2 separate regions of the Homo sapiens genome follow, and region 2 is linked to region 1. The links come from fine-mapping of genetic effects on gene expression. A gene starts in region 1. The other region holds a variant in brackets. All regions are shown on one strand. Distances are from middle to middle.

The links. PIP is the estimated chance that this variant, and not a neighbour inherited with it, causes the effect. A credible set is the group of variants that fine-mapping cannot tell apart.
Region 2: its variant is the best candidate, but not a certain one, in a credible set for the expression of CD300C in blood mononuclear cells (TOPMed, PIP 0.70).

Annotation. Positions count from the first base shown.
Region 1 is chr17:74,540,514-74,550,300 of GRCh38, forward strand. It overlaps CD300C (CD300c molecule), which reads right to left and starts at 5,602. Exons shown (of 4, transcript NM_006678.5): 1 at 5,209-5,602; 2 at 4,096-4,434; 3 at 2,348-2,474; 4 at 560-1,223. The coding sequence starts at 5,269. The coding sequence ends at 1,076. It also overlaps a transcript of LOC107985074 not described here.
Region 2 is chr17:74,512,727-74,522,513 of GRCh38, forward strand. CD300LB (CD300 molecule like family member b) reads right to left here. Exons shown (of 4, transcript NM_174892.4): 4 at 8,448-9,787. It overlaps LOC107985074 (a long non-coding RNA gene), which reads left to right and starts at 8,305. Exons shown (of 3, transcript XR_007065902.1): 1 at 8,305-8,656. RefSeq lists an enhancer at 9,040-9,099. The variant CTCTT/C (reference allele first, on the strand shown) is at 6,075.

The DNA.
Region 1 (9,787 bases):
CATAAGCATCTGCCGAATGGAAAAAAGGGTTAAGAACCCCCCAGGCGAGGCCCTCCTTGACCAGGAGGACTCATGGGAATCATCTGCCTCACAGGGGTCTTGGGTGTTGGCCAGGTCATCATGGCGACCCTGGAACTGAAATGGTGGGCAAATGATAACATCTTTCGTCTGTATAGACAGACATGGTCTACACTACTGAGCAAAAGACTCACTTAACTACCACATCAAGGAGTCATAGCCCTCCATCCGTTTCCAAATTTGCACCAGTTAAAACCCACAGCCCTGGAATGAAGGAGAGGTCAGGTCCCCTTGAAGAAGGAGGAAGGGTAGGCCTGGTTATGCTACCACAGTTCACACTGAGAATCTTCTACCAGCTCTCCCAGAGGGACCTAAAGACACTGGCCAGGATGTGTCTACCTGAAGGAGGGAATAGTCAGGCTTTGGGGGAAATTCTGGATCCTTTTCTGCAGGGACCCCCATTCCGAGAGGCCTAACATGGGGCTTGGTCCACTATTCTCAGCAAAGGCCTGTGGAAATCAGGGAACAATGGATTTCTCACTCAGGTCTGACTGAGTGGGCCTGATACATCCCAAACCTACACATTGTCATTTATTAAAGTTTGAAAGCATCATTGAATCGACACACTCAGCAAATGGAAGCAGCCGCATATTCTACACTCCTGGACCCAGGGAGTGTGGGCCATTATGGTGGCAAAGGTGCAGGGGAGTCCTAGACCTGCTTCTCCCTGTGAAAACGGTGGAGGAAGCAGTGCCAGGCTCCTGGAGAAATGGAAGGGTGCAGGGAGGGCATCCGGGCACTCAGAGGTATTGCTGACGGCCCGAGGCTTAGCTGGCCGGGGCGTGCACATGAGACGTGGACTCACAGCTCAGGGCGTCCATGTCCGTCAGGTTCACATGTGACACATGAGGATCGGGCACAGGGAAAAGGCTGAAGGAGGCTCACAAAGGATTCCAGGAGATGTGGAGAGAGCAGCCCGGGAGGGAGTGGTCAGGAGGTCATTCCAGTCCCCCAGAGGGGCTCTGTTGCAGCACAGGGCCTTGATGGACAGCAGATGCTACTGGTTCTCACCCTTGGGCCAATTCTGCCTGCTTCTAGAGCTTCTCTGAGGTCTGTTCACCCAGAGGACGGCACCCAGCATGCTCAGGAGCAGGGGCAGCTCCAAGAGGACCAGGAGCAGGAAGCGGACATTGCTGAACAGGGAGCTGTGGGGACACGGTGACAGGCAGTGAGTCACCTCCCCAGGGGAGGCCCAGGTGCCCTCCACCATCCCCTGACCCTTGTGTCCCAATCCTGTGACCACAGCCAACCACATAAGCACCCCCCTGGACAGTCCATCCCGTCTCAGCATCACGGCCCCTAACCCTCAGCCTCGGATTTACCCTTGACCTGAGGACTGTGACACAGGAAGGGCAGGACCATGAGAGGACGTGAGGTCACGCCAGGGATCCAGGCAGGGTCTGTGTCCAGGACGCAGCTGTCTACCTCTGTGCTCCCCATGGAGGGTTACCCAGCTGGGGTCCCGGAATTCACAAAGGGTTATTTGTTTGGTGTCAACTCTCCTGTACACAGCGTTTCCAGGAGGGCAGGGACCATTTGTTTCATTCACAGTGAGTACCTGCTGCCTACCCGGAGTCTCCAATAATCTGCCCTACAACTTCAGTGGTTGTTGAAGGAATTAATGAATGGACAGCTCAGCTCTCAGCTCCTCAGAGGACTGGGCTTATCAAACAGGATGAAACTCTGGCCAGGGCTGCGAGAGAGGCAGGGGAGAGGACCAGGGCCACCGGACCCCAGAGCATCTGCCCCCTTCCCTGGCCTGGCCAGGTCCCAAGGCTCCTCGCAGGACATTTGCCTCACTCCTCCCTCCACCTGGACCCTTCTTCCTCCAGACCCCAGAGTGCCCAGCCCCCAACCCTTGAGGTCTCTGTGCTCATGTCCTCTAATTCTCAAACCCTCTTCTGATCATCGTCAGTGAAATAGCAACTCCAACACCTGCACACGCTCTCCCCAAACCCAAGAGTCAAACATCTCATCCCAGCATTCATTACCCTTTGCTGTATTTGTACATCAGCCTCTGTGCTGACTTGCTCAATGCGTGAATCCACGCAGTAGAACTCAACTTCCACCAGGGCAGGACAGTGGCTGTGTGGTTCCCTGCTGTGACCCAATCCCAAAAGGAGCGCCTGACACTTAATAGAACCTTCACGTTTGGTGTGGGAGGTGCGAACAAAGAAGGGACTGGAAGAAGGGACATCCGAGTCCCCTAAACATCACACGCAGTGGGGAGGCCGCCAGCGTGGCCCAGTCCTATGCGCAGGCACCTTACCCAGGGTGTGGGCTGGGTTCGGGGCTGTCCTTTCTGGTCACGCTGGGCCAGGTGTGCACGGGCAGCTTCGTGGGAGGACCTGAGGTGCCCATGGAGCTCTGGGGGCTGGAGGCTGTGGTCGTCCCGGCTGTGGGTGAAACACAGGTCAACCTTGATGACATCACATGGGTCTCCCACTTACTCTCACCTGTTCTGCTCCAATTTTCACAGACAAGGTCACCAATGATGTGCTGGACAGATGCCCTGCATCCATCATGCCCCACGGCCACACCCAGGCCTGACCAGGGTCCTGGGCCTCTCCTTGTCCCATCCCTAGGTACTGCAGAGCCAGGACACCATTTCAGATGTGAGAGCTGCCCTGCTCACCTGTGGCAAAGGTACGGGTCTCCAGGTTTCACCCCAGCCAGGGAGGGACAGGGTGACCTGGGGGAATGGGGTGATGTTTACTCTGCGAAGGGTGACCCAGAGTGACTGCGAAGCCAGGGCCCTGGGCACAGCAGTGGCTGGAGAGAGGCTGGAAGTGAGGACAGGAAGTCAGTGGGGTCCTCCCTGAACGATGGGACCCGAGTCCACTCAGCCCCAAATGGCAGCCATGCTGCGGCCCCACAAGGCCATTGGACCATCCTCTCAGCAGGAGGGAATGCCCAGGAAGAAAGATCTAGAGAGGGGATGCCCGGTGAAGCCTGGGCGGCGGCCCGTGGTGAATACAGCTGGATAAGGGCCCTTTCCTCCTCTCCCTGGCGCCCTCAGGTGGGATCTTAGCTCCTCACTCCTAGATAGGAAGGCACAAAGGGCGCAGGAGGGACACGTCGCCCCCGGGGAAATGGAGAACAAGAAGATGCTCCGAGGAACCTGGGACATTGTCAGAAGAAAACGATGGAAAAGCAACCACACTGAGGCCACTGGGTTTGTGTCTTGTGAGACAGGAGGGGGCCTTTGAGGGAAGAATGATCTTCGGCACGGGAAAGGGCCCTCAGGTCCGTGCCAGTCTCAGCTCATTTCCATCCACAGGTCCCTTTGCCTGAGGGGGCAATTTCTGGGGTTCCCTCCTGTGGTAAAAGGTGCCAGAGAATAAGGGGGACACACAGGTCAGCCTCAGGGGCAGGATGTGGTTCCCAGGAGCATGAGAACCCCACCCAGGGCTCTGGGGCTCCTTCCTGTGTCCTCCAGTGGCTGCTGCAGGAGCTCCCAGGACAGGGCTGTGAGGCTGCGGCCTCAGGACCCTCCAGACAGGGCGGCATCCATGCAGGCCCCAGGGCAGGGGCAGCCTTGAGTGAGAGGAGCCAATGATGGGGGGGTCCAATTCCCCGTGGGGAAGAGCGAGTTAGACCCAGGCGGGACAGTGGGCACCCTTCAGTATGGATCCGGCCCTTGTCAATACAGGGAGGTAGCAAGGACCCCAGAGTCAGGGGTGGCCTCACAGACCCCACCCAGGAAAGTTTCAGGCCTGAGGCCGTGAGGGAGGGCCCACAGCGGGGGGTCTCCAGCCACAGGGCCAGGGTGCTTTTGTGGGCGCCCACCCTCCCAACACACACATGCAGGTGCACACACACACAAACCACACCACAACTCCTATGCAGGCACGCATACACAAAGACGCACTCACACTCATCCACACACAGCGGCACACAGTGTCCTGACTCACCAACCCCCAGGCTCACACCCTCCTGTTCCACTTCTTTCTTCAGGGACAGAATGACCAGCCCTAGGCTCAGGCAGGCCTGGTGCTGAGAAAAGGAGGGGCTCACCCGGGAACACGGACACCTCAACCTCGACAATGGGATCATGAAAGTCTCGGAGCCACGGTGTATCCACCCCACACCAGTAGGTGCCTGCGTCCTCCTCTGTGAGATTCTCCAGGGTCACTGTGAAGCTGAGGTTTGCAGGACTGTCCCTGATGGACACTCGGCCATTCCTTTTCCCTGCTGACCCTTTGGTCTCCACAATCTTGTCACATCGGAGAATCTGTGGTGGTCTGCACCAGAATTTGTTGAGGGTCCTGTGTTCCTTCTCATAGCGACACTGCACACTCAGGGATCCCCCCACGGGGCCCGCCACGGTCATGGGGTGGCTCAGAGGAAAATAGCCTGAAAAATACAAGCCAAAATCCTGTCTCCTTACCAGAGGGGCCTGGTCAGGGGTGCCGCAGTGTCAGCCCCTCATGGACCCTGGGCGTGTGGAGAAGGCAATGGCAGGCAGGCAGCCTTTGTCCACCCAGGAACAGGGACTGAGGGTGGGAGGCTCCCTCTGTGCAGAGGTGGGAAGGGCATGGGAAGTTTCCATGGAGACTGGAAAGGCAAGGCTAGGGAAACACTGGGTGTGTGCGGGCCTGTGTGTGCATGTGAGTGTGACTCTGTGTGTGTGACTGTGTGAGTGTGACTGTCTGTGTGAGTGTGACTGTGTGTGACTGTGTGTGCATGTGTGACTGTGTGTGCATGTGAGTGTGACTGTGTGTGCATGTGTGACTGTGTGCATGTGTGTGTGAGACTGTGTGAGTGTGACTGTGTGTGCATGTGTGTGAGACTGTGTGAGTGTGACCGTGTGTGCGTGTGAGTGTGACTGTGTGTGTGATCGTCCCAGATAAAATTTGTGATTGGATAACTTTGGCAATGACAGTCACAGCATCACCTCCCACCAGGGCTTCCTGTCTCGGGCACAGAGGAATAGGCCTCCCCCGTGCTGTGCCCTGCCGCCTGCTGTCCCCTGGTGAGGCAGCTGCTGACCGCTCCTGGGTGCTCCTTTGCCCTCCTCCCCTCTCCCTGCCCCACTCCCCTCTATGACCGCTACTCCAGCGCCTGCACCCCTCCCTGCCCTCTCCCACTCAGGACAGAGCTCCCCAAGTCCAGGGTCGGCCCACTCACCTGGGACAAGCAGGAGGAGCAGAGCTGAAGACCGCCACGAGGCCCAGGCCCTGGCAGTCATTCCTGTAACACGAATGTCACCTGCCACTGTGCAAGACCCCAGGAGGGGACAAAATGTAATCTCCTCCCAGCAGATCTGAGCTTCGCTTCTGCTTTTCTTCTGCTCTCTGCTTCCTTGTCCAGCCCTGTCTCAGGTCTGAGGCTGGAGAGGGTCAGGGTACAGGAAGCTCAGGGAGAGAGCCGCCTGGGCTGAGGCCGGTGCTGACAGCTCTGGGATGGTGCTAGTGGCTCCTCTCAACCCTGACGTCTGGCAAAGTCCAGGGTCCCTTGGGTGGCGATGCAGCCACTTCCCCACAGCCCACAGCTTCTGGCTTCAGTGTGTTACTCACACTGCAGAAGGCAGAGCCAAGCTGGGCCATTTCCTACCACATGGGCTGCTCCACCCTCTGTGACATGTCACTTCCTGGTCAGGATGGACAATCTTGTGGTTGGAGGCTAAATCTGCCACCTTCTTTAGCCTTGGAGGTGACCAGAGAGAGGTTGTGTCCCTTAATCTTCAGCTAGGTCCCCGCAGAGACCTCTGCCCCTAAGACCCCCAGCTCTTCTTCTGGCCTCAGAAGTTAGCGCTATGAACCCAGACACCATCTGCATGTCCCTTTTTGGTGCTGAGTCCCCAACCAGGTTAAAATCCCACAGGCTTGGGGAGTTTTCCTCTTGTGCCCCTGCCCCCAGACCTACACACACAGCGGCATCACCCACCCGAGACCCTCCTTTTCCATCTTGTCTTCTTGCCAAAATCCATGCCCCAGTGGGAATCAGGGCAGAGAACTGAGAATAGAGAGAGAGTTCAGACATGTGAAGATGCTGAAGTGGGACTTTGTGGAGGATGTGAGGCTGCGACTGAGCCAGCACACACCCCAGGGCACACGGAGGGGTGTTTGGTGACTGAGAGGACAGTTTGTCATGAGCAGCGGCTGCTGGTGTCTATCCTGGGTCCACTGTGATGGCCAGGGGCCTCCGCAGGGAGCAGACATGGCAGACAGGCCTTCCCAGGAGGCGGGAACCCAGGTCTATCCACACTCGGCATGGCTGGTTCTCCTGACGTGATGGGCTCAGGGTGTCTTTACCCTGGAAAGGGCAAGGAGGCTAGTCAGACACAGGATTTACCTCCTGTCTGTCCTGGAGGGCATCACCCCTTCTCCACCTTCTCATGCCTTAAGCATATTCCTTGACTCTCCCAACCCTCCTACAGATTTCTGTTCCTTTCTTCCTATCAGAGTCAATAGCACCAGTATGTGCACACAGCCATGAGGTTGAGTGGAGAGTGATGGGAGTCTGGGCAAACCTGGCACCATGAAGGGGTCTCTGCACCCTCGACCTGCCCTGTCCTCCCTCCATTTACACTCTCAGGGACACAGCATGCACTGGGGTCATTGGTGTTGATGCCCCCAGACTCACATCATGGGACTATCTCTAGCCCAGTGCAATCCCAGGGCCTCCAATTAGCCCAGTGCTCAGGTCTGGCCTGGGCCTGGCTTTGAAGTATCCCGGCTCTTTCATGGGCTGACCTGGTCTCCCCTTCTGCTCATACCCACCCCTTTCATTCTCCACAGAATCAGCAATGTGATCCCTGACACACACACATGGCCCTGGGGAGGCGCTGCTGAACTCCCAATGGCTCCTGCTGTCACAGGATGGCACCCACCTGACCTGGCCTCTGCACACAGGTCCTGGCAGGCCCCAGCACCTGGTAGGTGTCTCCAGCCTCCTGGATCCAGGTTCACACTGGTGCTGCCACCCTCCCCACTCGGGCCTTTGTCCAGACCCTCAACCTCCCACTCCTCTGCCTGGCTCCAGCCGACAGGGTTGCCTGCGTGTTCCTTGACCTTCCCGGGTTATGGTGGCTCGCTTTTTAGGGGTCCTCATGACCCATTTCACACTTCCCTCTCGTCTTCCTCAGTCTTTCTGTTGGCGAGTCAATGTCTGCTCCCATCTAGGGTGGCCGCCCCTTGAGAGCAGGTGCAGCCTCTTGTCTCATTCACAGCTGTGCCCGTTATCATTCCAGAGTCTGCCAAGTGCAGTTTAACAAACTGGCTGTTGAAAGGATGAATGGGTGAATGGATACATGACATCCTGATGTCCCACTGCCTCAGAGGACTTAGTCATCCAAAGTTGGTGCACCATTTCCTGCCCAGGCTGGGGAGGAGACAGGAAATGCTGTCTGGAGGCCCTGAAGCCACCTGACCCAGGGAGGCATCTGCCCCTGGCAGGACATGTGCACCTGCTCCTCTCTCTGCCTCAGGGCTCCTCCTCCAGGGATCCTGGCGCTCACCCCCTCCTTTCTCCTGATCCCTGCTTGCTCAGCGCCTATTAGAGGGGCTTCACCACAGTCCCCCTCAGCTCCTGCACAGCAGTCACCCCACTTCTCTTATTTCATTCCGTGACTCTTTTCATCTCTGACTTTTATATTTCTTCTGGAATTTATGCACGTATTTTTGCATCTGTTTATCATTTCTATCCCCCGCCTGGAATATGAGCTCAATGAAAACAGAGCTCCTTGCCTGGGTGTTCACGGCTGGACTCCAATGCCAGGTCAGTGTCTGATACACCAGAAGCTCCCATAAGTATCTGCTGAATGTAAAAATAGGTGAGGACCCCCAGGCGTGTCCCTCCTTGACCTGGTGGACTCATGGGGATCATCTGCCTCACAGGGGTCTTGGGTGTGGCATCCCTGGAACCGAAACGATGGTCAGCTGATAACGTCTTCCTTTGTCTGGATAAGCAGACATGGTCTGCACTAGTAAGCAAAAGACTCAGTTAACTACCACATTAAGAAGTCACGGCCCTCAACCAATTTCCATATTTGAGTCAGTTAAAAGCCACAGCCCTGGAATGAAGGGGAGGTCAGGTCCCCTTGAGGAAGGAGGAAGGAAAGGCCTGGCTACCATGCCACAACTCACACTGATAATCTTCTACCAGCCCTCCCGCAGGGACCAGAAGACACTGGCCAGGATGTGTCTACATAAGGAACGGAATTGTCAGGTTTTGGGGGGAATCCTGGATCCTCTTCTGCAGGGACCCCAGTCCTGAGAGGCCCAGCCTGGGGCTTAGTCCACTATTCTGAGCAAAGGCCTGTGGAGATCAGGGAACAATGGAGTTTTCACCCAGGTCTGACTTAGTGGGCATGATAGGTCCAGAATCTATGTATTGTCATTTCTTAAAGTTCGAAAGCATCATTGAATTGACACACTCAGCAAATGGAAGCAGCCACATATTCTGCACTCCTGGACCCGGGGAGTGTGGGCCATTATGGTGGCAAAGGTGCAGGGGAGTCCTGGACCTGCTCCTCCCTGTGAAAACGTTGAAGGAAGCAATGCCAAGCTCCTGGAGAAATGGAAAGGTGCAGAGAGGGCATCAGGCACTTAGAGGTGTTGGTGACAGCTCGAGGTTCAGCTGGCCAGGGCGTGCACATGAGACATGGAGTCACAGCTCAGGGCGTCTGTGTCCATCAGGTTCACGTGTGATTCATGGATCAGGCACAGGGAAAAGGCTGAAGGAGGCTCACAGAGAATTCCAGGAGATGTGGAGAGAGCAGCCCGGGAGGGAGTGGTCAGGAGGTCATTCCAGTCCCGCAAAGGGGTTCTGTCGCAGTGCAGGGCCTTGATGGACAGTAGATGCTACTGGTTCTCACCCTCTGGCCAACTCTGCCTGCTTCCAGAGCTTCTCTGAGGTCCGTTCACCCAGACGACGGCACCCAGCATGCTCAGGAGCAGGGGCAGCTCCAGGACCAGGAGCAGGACGTAGGGGCTGCTGAACAGGGAGCTGTGGGGACACGGTGATGGCAGTGAGTCATCTCCCCAGGGGAAGCCCAGGTGCCCTCCACCTTCTGCCTGTCTGTGAACCCAGGTCCTGTGGCCACACAAATCCCTGTGAGGACAAACTCTGTATATGACAACTCCTCTAAAGAGATCATTAGACCCTGACCTTCAGCCTGAGAGTCCCTGGAGTCTCAGGACTGCCTATAAGGAAGCACGTGGCCGTGAAAATGGTGCATGAGGACAGGGAGGGATCCAGGTGAGAACCACACCCACAAGATCTCTACATCCCGGGGTTATTCACTGGCGCATGGAATCAGTCATGTAGTTTGATGCCTGTATGGCCATCATTTCCCGAGAAGGTGAGGACTATTCATGTTATTCACAAGTAACTGGTACCTGCCCTCTGGTTGCAAATATCAGCCTGTAAAATTCATGGTTGTTGAAGGAATGGAAGGAATGAATGAATGGCCCAGCTCAGCTCTCAGCTCCTCAGAGGACTGGGCTCATCAAACAGGATGAGACTCGGGCCAGGGCTGCAAGGGAGGCCAGGGGAGAGGGCCGGGGTCACCGGGCACCAAAACATCTGCCCCCTGCCCTGGCCTGGCCGGGTCCCAGGACTCCCTTGCAGGACATTTGCCTCACTCCTCCCTCTGCCTGGACCCCTCTTCCCCCAGACCCCAGAGCGCCCTGCTCCCAAATCCTGCAGGTCTCCACGCTCATGTCCTCTAATCCACAAACCCTCTTCTGATCATTGTCAGTGA
Region 2 (9,787 bases), 28 kb before region 1:
AAAGGGGAAGAAGAGGTCATGCACCATCCGTCTTGCAGCTATAAAAACTAAGGTTTAGGTTGGTGAGGGGGTGTACCCGAAGGATGACTCAAAGGGTACTTCACGGGTAAAGGAACTCAGCTCAAATAAGGTGACTCAAGTCTATTTACAGCCTTGTCCAGTGTGGACTCAAGAATAGCCTGGCCTACCACCCTGAGCTGTCAGGGAGGACAGATGAGATGGACATTGTGAAAATGGGGTACTGCCAGCCTTTAAAATGCGGCGAGTGCACAAGTCACGCAGTGCTGTTATCAACTCATGATATAAGTTCCTCTTCCCTCCCCCGACTGCCTGTGTTGAGTCTCAAATTCATCCCACTGCAGGGAGGTCAGAAAAAGTTCAGAACTTCTTTCTGACCTCCCTCTTGTGGGATTTAATGAGGACATGAAGTGGTGACATTGAGGTGGGAGTTAAGGAGAATGTGCTGGGCTTGGGGCCCAGCAGATGGACATATGTTACCTGTGCCCCTGGGGATGATTCTACCTTCTAAAATGGGCCATGGAAACCTGGTTTCATGTGGTTGGGTCAATCCCCCCAGTGCTTCTGAGGTTGATGAGTTAAACGATGCAAAGGCCATGGTTGGGAGATCTCCTCTTGGGATACGACTTTGGTGAATTTACCTGGGTCTGGTCCTCATTCCTGCAAATCTAGAACCCGACCACCATCCAGACAAGAAGAGAGACTGAGACCCTACAATAACTCAAGTGATTTATTTTGGGGACACTCCTTTCCAGGAAGCTGAATGCTTGTGACCCTCATCTGTTTTTCTGATTTCAGCTGCCTGGGAGGTTGCCTGAGCAGGCAGGAGGCAGCTCATGGGCATGGACTTGAACTGATGCCTCGAATGGCCTGCCTGGCCTTTGTCTTTCTTTATGTTCCATTACCAAATATTCTGCTCCTGGAATCACAGCCTTTGTTTTTATTTATTTATTTATTTATTTATTTATTTATTATTTTAAATGTTTTATAGAGATGGGGGGTCTTGCCAGTACAGGCTGGTCTCAAATTCCTGGGCTCAAGCAAACATCCTGCCTCAGCCTCCCAAAATGCTGGGATTACACAACAATGCCCTAAAATAAGACTTTCAGGTGAAGCTTATGCATGTCTTTCCTGCTTGGTGAGTAGGGTATGATTAGAGTTGGATTTTTCCATCCCATATTCACTCTACAGAATCAATTTAGTGTTCTGCTTATCTATGGGACATTGATGTCATGTGATGGGTGATGTCATGTGATGGGTGATGTCATGTGATGGGTGATGTCATGTGATGTGTGATGTCATGTGATGGGTGATGTCATGTGATGCATGATGTCATGTGATGGGTGATGTCATGTGATGGGTGATGCCATGTGATGGGTTATGTCATGTGATGGGTGATGCCATGTGACAGGTGGTCATGTGACAAGGTGATCCTGTGATGAGTGGTCATGTGATGGGTGATGTCATGTGATGGGTGATGGGATGGGCGATGTCATGTGATGGGTGATCATGTGACAGGTGATGTCATGTGATGGGTGGTCATGTGATGGGTGATATGTAATGGGTGATGTCATGTGGGGGTGGTCATGTGATAGGTGATGTCATGTGATCGACGATCATGTGATGGGTGATGTCATGTGATGGGTGATGTCATGTGATGGGTGATCATGTGACAAGTGATCATGTGATGGGTGATGTCATATCATGGGTGATGTCATGTGACAGGTGATCATGTGACAGGTGATCATGTGATGGGTGATGTCATGTGATGGGTGATGCCATGTGACATGTGGTCATGTGACAGGTGATGTCATGTGATGGGTGATCATGTGATGAGTGATGTCATGTGATGGGTGATGTCATGTGATAGGTGATCATGTGATGAGTGATGTCATGTGACAGGGATGTCATGTGATGGGTGATCATGTGATGGGTGCTGTCATGTAATGGGTGGTCATGTGATGGGTGATGTCATGTGATGGGTGATGTGATGGGCAATCATGTGATGGGTGATGTGATGGTGATCATGTGACAGGTGATGTCATGTGATGGGTGGTCATGTGATGGGTGATATCATGTAATGGGTGATGTCATGCGGGGGTGGTCATGTGATAGGTGATGTCATGTGATGGGTGATCATGTGATGGGTGATGTCACGTGATGGGTGATATCACATGATGGGCGACATCACGTGATGGGCGATCATATGATGGGTGATGTCATGTGATGGGCAATATCACGTGATGGGCGACATCACGTGATGGGCAATCATGTGATGGGTGATGTCACATCATGGGTGATCATGTGATGGGTGATTGATGTCATATGATTCCAGGGGGAGCACCTGTTCACCAAGCAGGGGAGAGGCTGTGAGTTCTCTGCCACGCTGGTAACACAATCTCTACTGGGGCTTCCTAGTGCTGACTGCTGCAGGTGGCTCATCATAGCACACCAAGGGCCACCACAGGGACACATTACCAAAGGAAACCCCAGAAGACACAAAACATCCCCTTCTTCCTCCATAAACTTGGGAGCCAGATGTTGGGTGACATCGTTCACCATCTCTGGCTGCTCTGGCCTTGCTGGAACCCCCTGTTTTCTCTTTCTCCTCTTGCATCATGATAAATGGCCGATCATTAATGGATGAAAAGTGGTGTCTCTGACACAAAGGCTCAACGAGGCGTCTCTGTCAAAGGGTCACACTAGATTCTATATCCACACACAGGAGACCTCTGGACTGGGGACCCTGAGCAGTGCCTTGGAGAATTCTGCAGCTTCCTGCTCTCAGGCCTGTGGCCCCATCTCTCCTTGATTGATGCCCCCAAGGATGCCCTGAGGTTAGAACACTCCCTCCGTGGGTGTGTTCTTGAGGCCACCCAAAGTGGGGAGCTGTGTCTGAGACTCCACTTACGGCCAGAATACTCAAAGGCGTTATCTCCCAGGTAAAATGGTGGACCAGAAACTACCTGCTTGTGAGTAAGTAAGGAAGGAGAGCCAAGGTAAAGCCATTAGCATTTGCAGACCAGTTGTTCCCTGACAAACATAGATTTAGAACAGAAATTGGCAGCTAAATAAAGTTTAGTACTTGTATTACTCAGGGTTCTCTAGAGGGACAGAACTAATAGGAGATATATATATATATATGAAGGGGAGTTTATTAGGAAAATGAACTCACACAATCACAAGGTAAAGTCCCACAATAGGCTGTTTGCAAGCTGAGGAGCCAGGAAGCCAGTCCAAGTACCAAAACCTCAAAGGTACGGAAGCTGACAGAGCAACCTTCAGTCTGTAGCTGAAAGCCCAAGAGCCCCTGGCAAATCACTGGTGTAAGTCCAAGAGTCCAGAAGCTGAAGAACTTGGAGTCCGATGTTCAAGGGCAGGAAGCATTTACCATGGGAGAAAGGTGGAGGCTGGAAGACTTAGCCAATCTAGTCTTTCATGTTCTTCTGCCTACTTTTATTCTGGCCACACTGGCAGCTGATTGGATGGTGCCCACCCGGATTGAGGGTGGGTCTGCCTTTCCCATTCCACTGACTCAAACGTTAATCTCCTTTGACAATACCCTCACAGACACACCCAGGAACAATACTTTGCATCCTTCAATCTGATCAAGTTGACATTCAGTATTAACCATCAAAGTACTTTTTTTTTTTTTGGCCAGTGGTACAGTTGCCTGGGTTAGTACTGAGACAAAAGGATGATGGTGGGGGATGCTGGCTTGCACAGGACTTCAGCTGTGAGGAGCCTGTGTCCTCGCGGAGGCTTCTGTTTGCAGAAAGAAAGTTGCCATGGCCCTGGAGGAGATGGAGCTGAGAAGCTGAGGAGGGGGAGAAAGGGTCAAGTTCCTGATGCTGCAGCCCACAGAGACCCCTCCAACCTGCCTCAGGAGAGGGTGTGAGGGCAGGAGCTTGTTGTGTTCACAAAGATGGAGGCACAGTGGTCTAGAAAGACCCAGGAGGAGGCTCAGAATGGAGCGGGGTCCAGCAAGACTTCTGCAACAGGCGTTTTTGTCTCCTCCTACCCAACTCCACTCCAGGATGGAGCCATCACCAGGTCTGGCCATCCACCCTTCCAAATGTGAATCAGGGGAGGATAGTCCCAGCTGGAAGCTGGTCCCAATCACCTTGTCAGTAATTAAGCTAGGGGTGGTCACCAGAGTCTGAAGCAGCCAATGAGACATTGAGGGGATGTGATGGGGGTGGGGACTCTGGGAAACTTCTGGGATCAGTGGTCTGGTTTTCTTCCTCAGAAGTCCTTGTGTCTGGTGTCTGGGCTGATCTCTCTCTGCTGCCTACTTCAGAGATCTCTCTCTGCTGCCTTAGGATGAAGACAGTTCTGAGGCCATGACCACAGAGCAAGAAGGAACTTGTATCAACCAATTCCAAGGACACCACCAAGGCCAAACAAACAAACCAAAAGCCCCAAATCAGCAATTAACAGTGAAACAAGAGAGGAAGCAGTGGCTGCCATGATCAGTGGCTGACCTTACAGAGAGGCTAGTATTTAGGGGATGAACTGCAGGGCTTGGGGGAGCAATAGGCTTAGACCACCCAAAATGGGCGCTGTGTCTGAGACTCCACTTAACGATCAGAATACTCAAAGGCACTACCTCCCAGATAAAATCTTGGACTAGAAACTACCTACTTGCGAGTAAGGGAAATGATTTTTTAAAAAAATAGTAATAATTGAAAAACTGGAAATTCATATGCAAAAGAATGACACTGGAGCCTTCCCTAATAACATAGACAAAAATTAACTCAAATGGATCAAAGACCTAAATGTAGGATCTAAAACCATAAAACTCTTAGAAGAAAACACAAGGCAAAAGTTTCACAGCATTGGATTTGCCAGTGATTTCATAGACATGATGCTGAGGGGACAGGCAACAACAACAACAACACAGACAAATGGAACTTCATGAAAATTTAAATTATGTGTTTTTGACTCATATCTTTTTTTTTTTAAGAGATGGGGGTTTTGCTATGCTGCCCAGGCTGAAATGCAGTGGCTATTTACTGGCATGATCATGGCGCACCACAGCCTCAAACTCCTGAGTCCAAGTGATCCTCTCACCTCTGCCTCCTGAGTAGCCAGGATTACAGGTGCAAACCACCATGTCTGGCTAAAATTTCAAAATTTGTGCACCAAATGACAATATCAACAGAGTAAAAAGGCAACTCACACAATGGGATAAAATATTTGCAAATTACATATCTGATAAGGAATTATATCCCAAATATAGACAGAACTCCTAAAACAATAAAAAAAAAAAAGGCCCGATTAAATGGGCAAAGGACTTGACATTTCTCCAGAAGAAATCTACAAATAGCCAATAAATACATGAAAAGATGCTCAACACCACTCATTATCAGGAAAATGCAAATCAAAACCACAATGGGATATCACTTCACACCTGTTAGAATAGCCATTGTGTGTGTGTATATATGTGTGTATAAAAACATGTATAAAACAACAGAAACAACAAATGCTGGTGAGAATGTGTATATATATATGTATAGAAACAACATGTATAAAACAACAGAAAACAACAAATGCTGGTGAGAATGTGGAGACACTAGAACCCTTGTGCACTATTGGTGGGGAGGTAAAATGGTGTAGCTGCTATTATGGGAAATAGTATTGAGGTTACTCAAAAAATTAAAAATAGAACTATCATATGATCCAGAAGTCCCACTTCTGGGTATTTATCCAGAAAAACTGAAAACAGGATTGCAAAGTGCTATCTGCATGCCTATGTTCATTGGAAGCAGCATTATTCACAATAACCAAGAGATGGAAACAGCCTAAACGTCCATCAATGGATGAATGGATAAAGAAAGTGTGATATGTACATACAATGTGATGCGGTTTGGCTCTGTGTCCCCACCCAAATCTCATCGTGTAGCTCCCATAATTCCCACATGTTGTAGGAGGGACCTGGTGGGAGATGACTGAATCATGAGGGCAGGGCTTCCCCGTGCTGTTCTGGTGGTAGTGAATGGGTCTCATGAGATCTGATGGTTTTATAAACGGGAGTCTCCCTGCAGAAGCTCTCT[CTCTT/C]TGCCTGCTGCCATCCATGTAAGATGTGACTTGCTCCTCCTTGCCTTCCACCATGATTGTAAGGCCTCCCCAGCCATGTGGAACTGTAAGTCCAATAAACCTCTTTCTTTTGTAAATTGCCCAGTCTTGGGTATGTGTTTATCGGCAGTGTGAAAACAGGCTAATACACAATGGAATAATATTTTAGTGGGGGATGAGAACAAAATATTTTATAGTGTGCTTGAAAGTAGGCTGAGAACACAGTTTTTTCTTCTATTTATTTTCTTTTAAAAATTATTACTATTTTTAATTGACACATAATCAGACATTTATGGGGCACATTGTGATATTTTGATACATGTATATAATGTGTAATGATCAAATAAGGGTAATCAGCATATCCATCACCTCACTTTTGTGTTGGAAACATTCAAAATCTACTCTTCTAGCTATTTGAAAATATACAATAAGTTGTTGACAATTATAGACATCCCCTAGTGCTATAGCACACGAGGATTTATTCTGCCTATGCAGCTGTACTTTTGTATCTGTTAACAAATCTCTGGCTATCCCCTAACCCCCAACACACTGCCCCACCTCTAATAACCACTGTTCTATTCTCTATGTCTTGAGATCAACTTGAGAACATGCAGTATTTCTCTTTCTGGGCCTGACTTATTTCATTCACATAACGTCCTCCAAGCTCATCCATGTTGCCACAAATGATAGAATTTTGTTCTTTTTTTTTTTTTTAAACGGTGTCTTGCTCTGTCGCCAGGCTGAAGTGCAGTGGCAGGATCTTGGCTCACTGCAACCTCCACCTCCTGGGTTCAAGCGATTCTCCTGCCTCAGCCTCCTGAGTAGCTGGGACTACAGGCACACACTAACAGGCCCAGCTAATTTTTGCATTTTTAGTAGAGACAGGGTTTCACCATGTTGGCCAGGATGGTCTTGATCTCTTGATCTCGTGATCCGCCTGCCTCGGCCTCCCAAAGTGCTGGGATTACAGGCGTGAGCCACCGCGCCCAGTCGAATTTTGTTCTTTCTTACATCTAAACAGTATTCCATTATGTATATGTGCCACGTATTCTTTATCTTACAATGGAATATAATTTTATTCAGCCTTAACAAAGAAGGAAATCCTGCCGTATTCAACAACATGGATGCATCTTGAGGACATTATGCTAACTAAAATAAGACAGTCACAGGTTAAAGGCTGCATGGTTCTGGTTACATGAGGTAACTAAACTAGTCACACTCATAGAAGCAAAAAGTAAAATAGTGGCAGCCGGGGGCTGGTGGAGGAGTGGGAGGGAGAGTTGCTACTCAATGGGCATGATTTAGTCATGCAAGGTGAGAAAGTTCTAGAACTCTGCTGTACAACAATGTGCATATAATTAATCATATTTTACCACACACCTAAGAGTTTGTTAAGAGGGCAGATTTCATGTTAGGTGTTTTTTGTTTGTTCATTTTTTACCACAATTTTTAAAAAGGGGAAGAAGAAGGAACCCATGTCTGCCTCTCTGGTGAGGGCCCTTCCCGCTGCTATCTCTTTACTGCCCCTAGCCAGCTGCCCTCGGCTCTGAACTTCCTCTGTGGCTATGCAGTTGTTCAGAAGTAAAGGCCTGTGGGAAGGGCCTCATGGGGAAGGAAAAGCTGTGCTTTTTTCTTAAAAGAGCAAGATCCACACCTGCCCACTAACTTTTTTTTTTTTTTTGAGACAGAGTTTCGCTCTGTCCTCTGTCACCCAGGCTGAAGTGCAATGGCACCATCTCGTCTCACTGCAACCTCCACTTCCCGGGTTCAAGTGATCCTCCTGCCTCAGCCTCCTGAGTAGCTGGGACTACAGGTGTACACCACCACACCCAGCTAATTGCTGTATTTTTAGTAGAGACAGCAGTTTTGCCATGTTGGCCAGGCTGGTCTTGAACTCCTGACCTCAGGTGATCCACCTGCCTCAGCCTCCCAAAGGTCTGGGATTACAGGCGGGAGCCACCATGCCCGGCCTCACTAACTTTTGGTTCCATTAAGTGTGAAAATCAGCATATGCCGAATCCTCATGGTCTGTGGCTATTTAAGGGCATGACGGCTTTGGCTCCAAGCTCCCAATGGAAACATATTTGCTGGAAAATGCAATGCCAGCACTAGTGACTCATTTATTGACTTCCGTCTTTCTCCCTACCCCAGAGAATGGGCGTATTAGGCAAGCCTTGCTTGTCAGCTTGTGTTGGAACCCCAAGGGGTATTCCTAGAGATGTGTACAAGGGGTGGTGGTGTAAGGGCGTGCGCGGTGGGTGGTAGTTGGGCAGACAGACAATAGATGCCTACTTTACTCCAGTGGATTCTCCTTAACAGAGCCACGAGAATAACAACCCAGCCACACTAGCTCCAGAGAGATTGACGGATTCATTGAATATCAACAGGAAGAAACGGTGGGAAAAGAATGACATCACGTTGACAAGCGCCCATGTCCCCTCGCCCCTGAGTCCAGCTGGTGAAGCACCATGCTTTGGCTTTCCCTCCCGCGGAGCGGTGCCGTCCTCCCTGGGTCTGGTCGGATCTTCGGGAAGCTGGATCCAGGAAAGCATTCCAGGAGGTAGGGCCCTGGGGCTGGTGGACTGTGGGTCTTGGTCCCTCACAGAATGACTCAGGGGATCTTAGCCGGGCTCGAACTCTCCTCTCTGGCCATTATGGAATTTTCAGGCCCATCATTGGCCAGAGACCTAAATTCAGTTCAAAGTCAGAGAAAGTTTCTCTTTGGCTGAAGGACAAGAAGAGGGGAGGCTCTGGGTGCCATGCTAGGGACCAGAGGGTCCCCTCTCCTTTATCCACTGCTGACAGTCAGTACTCCCTATTAGAACCAAGAGCAGGTTGGAGGCGTCCTCATGGGTGTTCAAAGGGCAACATGCCGAACATGTGTGGTGTGTTTGCTTGTGGGCAGGTGGGGGCGGGAGCACATCTCACATGGGAAGGTCCCTTTGGTGTGAGGGTCCCTCAACCATACAGCACAAAGTGACCACATTCAAGGGCCTCATCGCCGTGGGTGAAGCCTGTGAGGAGACAGAACCACTTCCCTAGGACAGTTTTCATTAGTAACATGATTTCAACATCACCGAAAAGGGAGGGTGCCATTTCCTGCGATGGTTTTCGTTACTGCCCTCCCCACCTGGAGGTGGTTCTTGAGGCCTGACAGGCTCTTTTGGGGAGGAGACCCAAGCTGTCATGCTGAGGAGGCTCCCAAGCTGCAGCCCCTCGGAGGTGGGGGAATAGGCAGGGAGCTTGGGGAGCTAGGAGGAGGAAGAGGTGGGAGGGGGAGGACAAGCACCGGGCCGGGCCAGGGAGGTTCCCATTGCCTCCTCAGCCCTGTGGACTCAGAGCCATGTCCTCCCTGGGGACAGGGTCCATCCAGCCCCTCATGCCCTAGAACCAGGAACTCATCCCAGAATCACCCTCCTTGTGTGTGGGATCAGAGAGGTTTCCTATGAACATAAGTCATTAAAACCCAACTTTGCTAGAAAAAAAAAAATTTAAAAACACGGATATATCAGGTTCTCAGGCAAAGACGGTGTTGAGTTGGTCTCCGGAATGATGGAAGTCTAGGGCTGGGGGGGTCTCCCCCAACCTCTTTCTGTACTTTGGTCCCATGCTCTGTGCCCGAGTTATTCCAGCAGTGGGGACAGAGTCGTCCAGTGCTTGAGCTCCATCTCTACAGCTCCTGACCAAGAGA